Homo sapiens: one gene and its partner. The protein of the gene in region 2 interacts with the protein of the main gene of each other region in a pairwise test. Each region holds a gene or a part of one and is shown on either strand. Other genes may lie near its edges.

Region 1 (3,752 bases), on a different chromosome or scaffold from region 2:
AGTCTATGCATAAGGGATTGCTCATAAAAGAACTTGTTATATTTTCTCTCTTGAATGTGCATGACTGTGACATACTGTATTTTGCCATTGTTAAACTCAGTTTAATAGAATAAATATTCAAATAAGAATTGACTATACCAATATTCCAGTAGAGAAGGAATAAGCTGATAGACGTGTCTTTGAGTTCTGTCAGGCAAGACTTAACCAAATCTTGACACACGGTTAAAATTGGTTGTTAATGAAAGGTAACTAGATAAAATAGGTATATATTTGCTTAAGAACATTTTAAAAATATTTCTTTTTTTAGATTTGGAATTCACAATAGGTTTCTTCCGTTCCTCCTTTGTAAATTATGAAATATTTATTGTTTAGACTGAGTAATATGACATGAAACAACAAACCTGCACATTTCTAATTTATAACAAATCTGTTTCCTTAATGGGTGGAAGGAAATCTGAGGACAGTTCTAAGGAGTCTTGTCTGCTTTCAGTGCGATCTTCTAGTCATACTGAAGACAATACCTCTCCAGATTGGTCTTTCCCCTTCTTCTCCTCTCCCCGGTCAACGTCAATCACATGCACCACTCCAGGTTTTAGAATCAGGTCATCCGTCTCTACCTGACTCCTGTTGTCCTCCACCTCCATGTAGCTTCCTTTTGTTTGCTGGGCAGCTTTGCTGAAGGCTTCTTTAAAACGACGTTTGAATTCAACATCTGGACAGAAGACATACTCATAAAGGCCACCAGCGAGGACAGCTCCTATGATGGGCCCAACCCAATATATCTAAGGAAAAGATGGAAGAGGATAGAGTGTAAGTAGAGAAAAGCTATTCCATTGAGCAGCTCATGAATGTAGAATCTAGCTGGGTTAAATTAAGAGTGTATTTGTGTCATGCATCAAAAAGAGGGGAATTGGAGAGGAAATAAGAAAACACACCAAAGCCTCATCAGAGATCCATAAATTATTAAACTGCATTTGAACAGAAAACAAAAAGAACTGTTTCATCTCCTATCCTCTTTTCATTAATTATGTTCTTTCCATCTTATGATAATCGTTAATGTAAAGATAGATCCTCTTTGGTGGTACTACAAATTAAGCGCACTAAGAATTCTTTAACTAAAATAAAAAAAAAATTTCTGGAGAGTCCTTCTCTTATTTTCTCAATATTGCCATTTTACACTGGTTTCCTGCACAATCATGATCATAACACAGTTTTTATCTTTTGGGGATTCCGTTATTCAGGTAAGCATGATCAAAACCAACCCAGCTCCACCACTTAGCAGAGTTATGAGTGCTTGTATCAGTTACGTAACTTTCCAAGTCTTAATTTCCTCATCTGTAAAGTGGGGATTATAATAATACAAACCTCACGGGGTAAAAGGATTAAATGCAACAATACTTGTAAAGTACTTGATAGTTTTTAGCTCGTAGTAATCTGCTCCATTCCAGGCTTCCAAAATTTGGTGATTTGATTTAAATGAAAACCTCGTGTTCATTACTGTGCAGATAGCTTTCATCTATGCGGTTCTCACGATGGCTTGGTGAAAAAATATGAGTTTATGGCTAGTTGAGAAGTAGCAATTCCATAGGATTTCAATAAATGGAAATTATTATTATTATTATTATTATTATTAATTTTGAGACGGAGTCTTGCTCTGTCACCTAGGCTGGAGTGCAGTGGGCGATCGCCACTCACTGCAAGCTCTGCCTCCCGGGTTCACGCCATTCTCCTGCCTCAGCCTCCTGAGTAGCTGGGACTACAGGTGCCCGCCACCACGCCTGGCTAATTTTTTGTATTTTTAGTAGAGATGGGGTTTCACTGTGTTAGCCAGGATGGTCTCAATCTCCTGACCTCGTGATCCACCTGCCTCAGCCTCCCAAAGTGCTGGGATTACAGGTGTGAGCCACCGTGCCCAGCCGGAAATTATTATTACATATTAGCTATGCCCCTAGAATAAAGTTTTGAGTTTGAATGAAGTGCAGACATTTGCTTTAGAGCACATGTGTGCTGTAGAATATTAGACATTTATTTAACAGACGCACTTGGGCAACAGAAACCCTGCTTGTTGAGCACTGTCCCCGGGCCAGCCGTACTTGGCACTTTTCTTGTATAATCTCATTTAATTCTAACAATAACCAATGAGATAAATATTATTATTCTTCCCATTTTATGAAAAGAAGAGTGACACTCTGAGAGGGTAATAAGCTTGCTTAAGATTTTGTGCTTATCAAATGGTTGAGCTGAGATTTCAGACCTGTCTGACTTCAAACCTCTCATTTGAGGCTGGGCACAGTGGCTCACACCTGTAATCCCAGCACTTTAAGAGGCCAAGGTGGGTGGATTGCTTGAGCCCAGGAGTTCGATTCAGCCTGAGCAACATGGTGAAACCCTGTCTCTACAAAATACAAAAAAAAATTAGCTGGGCTTGGTGGTGTGCACCTGTAGTCCCAGCTACTTGGGAGGCTGAGATAGGAGGATCACTTGAGCCCAGGGAGGTCTCGGCTGCAGTGAGCCATGATCGTGACACTCTACTCCAGCCTGGGCAACAGAGTAAGACCCTGTCTCAAAAAAAAGAAAAAAACAAACAAACAAAATGAAAACCTCTCTTTTGAAACACTGTTCCAAACACTGCAGTATACTGTTTTCCACTGTACTACACACTCATTTGAAAAAAAACATGATGGATGCTTTTTGTTTAAAACACCCTCTGCAAATTAATCTCAGTTTGCATCCTCATTGTAAGATTTAAATAAAATTCAAAATTTAAGCTGAGGCTGAAGACATAACATTTACGGGGAAACTGTTGCTAGTGTGGCTGGAAGAATCAAGTTCCTCTCTTGAACATGAAAAAACCCATATGAGCCTTTATCTTCTCTATGCCCTTTTAAAGGAGAAATGAGAGCCCTCCTCTAAATGTCTTTGCTCTTTGTTAGTAAGGTCTCATTAGACATGTACTATTCCACAGGCTACAAATCCCACAAGGGAGACTAGAACAGCAAAATAATTACTACCCTTTCCAAAACATCTGTGAATAAGATACCCAGCTGCATGTTCTCAAAAATAAACAAATCTCAGTGTCAAGTTGCTATTTCAAAATGAAGTCATATGTACTTTAAAGTAAAGAATCTTTATTGCTAAAAATCTAGAAAATGTGTAAAAGTATAAAGAAAACTAAAATAATATCATTACACTATACAAAAAACCCAATTAATATTTTAATGTTATTCCTAATCTTTCTACCTACAAATATACTTTAAATTAGTTCTAAATTTCATACAACCATTGCTATTTTTAGTAGAATTAAGATTGGTATAATATAACATGGGGCAACTTTTAGTTTAATCAACAAGCTAAGAATGTTCCTACTATTTAAATCTTAACTAGTTTACTGCAACTGACAAGTAATTAGTAAAATATATTTTTTCATCTACATTTTCAAGTGCTTATAAATTTAACTAAAAGTTGTTAATGACAAAATAGTTTCAATTTAATATGTTGAACTGAAAGTTGTATTTTCATTGTAAGATCAGGGCTGGGCACTGTGGCTCACGCCTGTAATCCCAGCACTTTGGGAGGCTGAGGCAGGTGGATCACCTAAGGTCAGGAGTTCGAGACTAGCCTGGCCAACATGGTGAAACCCTGTCTCTATGAAAAAATACAAAAATTAGCTGAGTGTGGTGGCATGCACCTGTAATCCCAGCTACTCGGGAGGCTGAGGTTGGAGAATCTCTTCAACCCAGGAGAAGGAGGTT
Region 2 (3,790 bases):
TTAGTACCCTTTAAAGGAGCTACAGTCATTTTATTATTTCAGGAGGTTAAAATATACTCTATATTACTTGGTTTCTTATAAAATGATTAAATGAATAGAGAAAATATTAATTTTCAAGGGGAAAAAACCTGAGAAGAAAGGGAGAAAAGACCATGAAATTTACCAGATAACACTTTTTAAGACTAAGTCCTGAGCTGCCACTCTCAGCAGTTTTTGCTGCTTCAGCTCTTCCTTTTTATTACCTTTTTCAATTCAACAAGCAACTTTCTGCTACATACTTACTCCGGTTGGGTGCTGACTTCAGGGACAGGAAAAAGCAAGGTTTGCAAAGAGTGAAACTAGTGTATATTCCGTATCTTGGTAGTTCGTTTCTGGATTGGGTTTAGTTTCAGAACTGGACTTGTTCCTTCACTGCCACAGAATCAGAAAGAGCTAGAAGAAAAGGCTCACCTGGCCACTGTTTAGGCACCCAGACATAATTTATGGACGAAATGCCTAAAAATGTGCCAGGCATGCTCTGTTTGAGAGGCTTTTTCTAACCCCAAATCTTAGATCTGCCAGGTAGTTCAACATCTTCCAAGTGTGCTGGTTCTGCTTTCCAATGCCTGCTTCCCAATTTTGGATCCATGAGCTATACAGCTGCATGCTTTGACTGCCGGAAAAATTAATCTTGCTTCTTCATCAGGTCTTTCTCCTGTACTTGTGATCAGAAATTACCTTTGACGTGCAGTGACAGTTGATTTCCTCTTGAACTGCCGGTGAAAACAGTCTAGTACACAGGTGCTGTCAGCCCAGGGTGGGAGCAGGAAATGATTGCTGAGCCCGGGGCAGGGGAATTGCATCTGCAGGAAAGAGATGCAGCATGCTCCTCACTCCTGAGTGCCCACCTGTCCTGCTTCTCTGCAGGTGAAAACTCTGGGGGATGCTGATCAATAGAGCTTGGTCCCAAGCTCTACTGGGCCCTTGGAGGTAGCAAGGCCACTGGGTTGCTATCCTCTTGCTGGGGATAGCAACCACTGGTTTGCAACCACTGGGTTGCTATCCTTTTGCTATCCTCTTGCTCATGACCAGCCATATGGTGAGGCTGGGGAGTTCACATCCTCAGGCAGGAACTAGCAGTTGTTTATCCAGCAATGCCTCAAGGATGTTGCATTGCTCCCAGGAACTGGCTATTAGGTATGTCTTGTGCGGTCAGTCAGCATCACAGACACATAGATGCTCACCAGCCTGGCTTAGCTGGGACCTAAATCTTCTGGTGAAAAGCTTTTCACTAAGTGAGGTTCCTTCCCTGCAAATGCTGAATCTAGCCTAATTCGCAACCACACAGAATTTCATGGCTTTCAAAGGCTTGCCATGTGCCCCATCTCATTCTATACTCACATCCCATGGAGGTGAGGATTTTCACTTCTTTTCTCTAGACTTGGAAGCTGAGATTCAGAGAGGAAGCATCCCTTGTGCAAGATCACATAGTCAGGAGGTGACACAGGGCTAAGACTTGAACCAAGGCTCTAAGAGGATTTCTTCTTTTCAGAGTCTCTTCCCTGTCCATTTCTGTGACTAAGCTGTGCAGAGGTTGACAGCAGGGCAAGTTACATTGATATTCATCCTTTATAGGCTTCCTGCTAAAAAGCTTCTGAGATTGTGGTCTTCCAAAAAAAATAGGAGCTTGGTTGAAGTCCCCACATTTTCAAGCACTCAGTGTTCTGCCTCTGGCAGCTGTGCTAACAGCTCAGTGCTGTCCTGGGAGTCCTCTGACTCAGAACCCTCGAAGCATCCTGCATTGTCTTTACCCACCATCATCTTCACTAAGAGAAACATGCCTACCCATGAAGGCGTGTTTGATTACTCCAGGCTTCTGGACACACATACCCATGGGTGATTTTTGCTCCTCAGGCCCAATATTCTCAGACAGCCCAGCAGTGTGAACACACAATGCCAGGCCAGGAACTGGGACCACCATCTTGCTGATGGAAGGAACAACAGGTGGCCCAGGACATGCTCCTGCATACTCCTGGGTGTCCCAGGGACTGTGTGCTCAGGAGCACTGTGGTAGAGCACTGGCCCTGCCTTGAGAAGAGACACAGGTCTCCCGTCCCTGCACCAGCTGAGAGAGACTTGCCGCAAAGCACAAGGCTGGCAGAGATTTATGTATGACTTGCACAGACACAAAAATATACAGACAATCAAAACATTGATATATTCAAACTCTCCTTTAAATTCCAATCTTATTGCAACAACTCTGTGAATTGCAAGGTCCCAGAATCTGCCTTCTCACATACTCTACCCTCATTCATCCTTTTGGGCTAATTGATGAGCATCTTATTTCTTATCTCTAAAAATTATCAGCAAAGGCTACTTCAGATGGCCACTTTAGTCCTTTCAGCTGTAGTCAGGATTATTTAACTTACCTGTATATCAAAAGTGAAGAAAAAGTTAGTTCATAAGTAAAGGCACTAAATCCTTTCCTGACAATGGCAGAGTCTCTAGAGGTAGAAATTTGCCTTGCTGCAGAGAGAGAAGGAATGGCGTGGGATGGGGGAAAGAAAAGAAAGAGAAGAAGCTGGGGTCTCCAGGCAGGGTAGTAAGCTGACACTAAATATTTTTTACACAAAAATGTATTGAAGCAACAAATATTTCCTGAAGATCCACCCTGGGTGAGGCTTTGAGCTGACTTTAGAGATCACTGTGGGGTCAAGAATGTCTTACATGTTTTATTCATCATTCTTGAAAAAAGAAATAATTCAAACCTTGGAATTAAAAAGTCAGAAAAATATGGGATTTTCTTTCTGGAATTTTCGAGGTTTTCTTTTTACCTTTGCCAGAGTGTGGGGGCAGGACTGGGCCTGCCAGGGTGTATAGCCCTTCCTGCTTGGTGGAGGCCAGTCAGGCCCAGGGCCTTCTAAGCAGCAGTAGAAAGGAGGCTTGGGGAAGTGGGGGGTCTGGGTAGCAGGGGAAGGAGGCCAGTTCCAGTGTAGCCCCCTATCCCCTCCAGATGTGCTGCTTCTGGCTGTGCACTCAGTGACTGCCCTCACTGCTCAACCCTGTGCTGTGTGGTGTGTTTCTTTCCCCACTGACAGTGAATAAAAGGTGCAACTGTGCTGAGGGCTCCTGCTCTTCCCTACACTGGGACAGGATTGGGGTGGGGAGAAAGGGACAGAAGAGGCCTGGGGAGGCTCACTCAGTGAAGGGCCAAGGTCCTTGTTCTAGCAAGGACTCTGGGAACATGGCATGAGACTCACTTGAGCTAGTTCAAAGAAATGGGGGAGCAGATTATAAGGGACTCTGAAGATGGAAAATCAAGAATGACTGAACCTCAGGCCAAGCGCAGAGGCTCACACCTGTAATCCCAGTACTTTGGGAGGCCAAGGGGCAGATCACAAGGTCGAGATCGAGACCATCCTGGCCAACATACTAATAATACAAAAATTAGCTGGGCATGGTGGTGCACGCCTATAGTCCCAGCTATTCGGGAGGCTGAGGCAGGAAAATTGCTTGAACCCAGGAGGCTGAGGTTGCAGTGAGCAGCGGAGGTTGCAGTGAGCCGAGATCGCACCACTGCACTCCAGCCTGGTGACAGAGCAAGACTCCATCTCAAAAAAAATAAAAAAATAAAAATAAAAATAAAATAAAAACTGGCTGAACCTCAAGAGAACTGGAACTGGCAACTGGGCCTCTTCCTTACCATCTCTGGGTCTTGCAGGCTCTTGTTCCCTGGGCAGTATTTGCATCCATGCTCTTTTCCTGGGCTTCTCTTCAGACTTCTTTGGTTTTGTTGCACACAGTGGCTGAA

The links. The genes of interacting proteins can lie anywhere in the genome.
Region 1: the proteins of HPCAL4 (region 2) and AQP4 interact in binary tests that used the Homo sapiens proteins (3 or more experiments, as listed by UniProt).

Annotation. Positions count from the first base shown.
Region 1 is NC_000018.10:26,855,708-26,859,459, forward strand, and holds part of AQP4 (aquaporin-4), read right to left. Parts: intron 783-3,752; coding exon 504-782; coding exon of another isoform or gene 417-503; 3' UTR 1-416. UniProt on the Homo sapiens protein: Forms a water-specific channel. Plays an important role in brain water homeostasis. It is involved in glymphatic solute transport and is required for a normal rate of water exchange across the blood brain interface.
Region 2 is NC_000001.11:39,677,956-39,681,745, reverse strand, and holds the end of HPCAL4 (hippocalcin-like protein 4), read left to right. Parts: 3' UTR 1-3,098; downstream 3,099-3,790. UniProt on the Homo sapiens protein: May be involved in the calcium-dependent regulation of rhodopsin phosphorylation.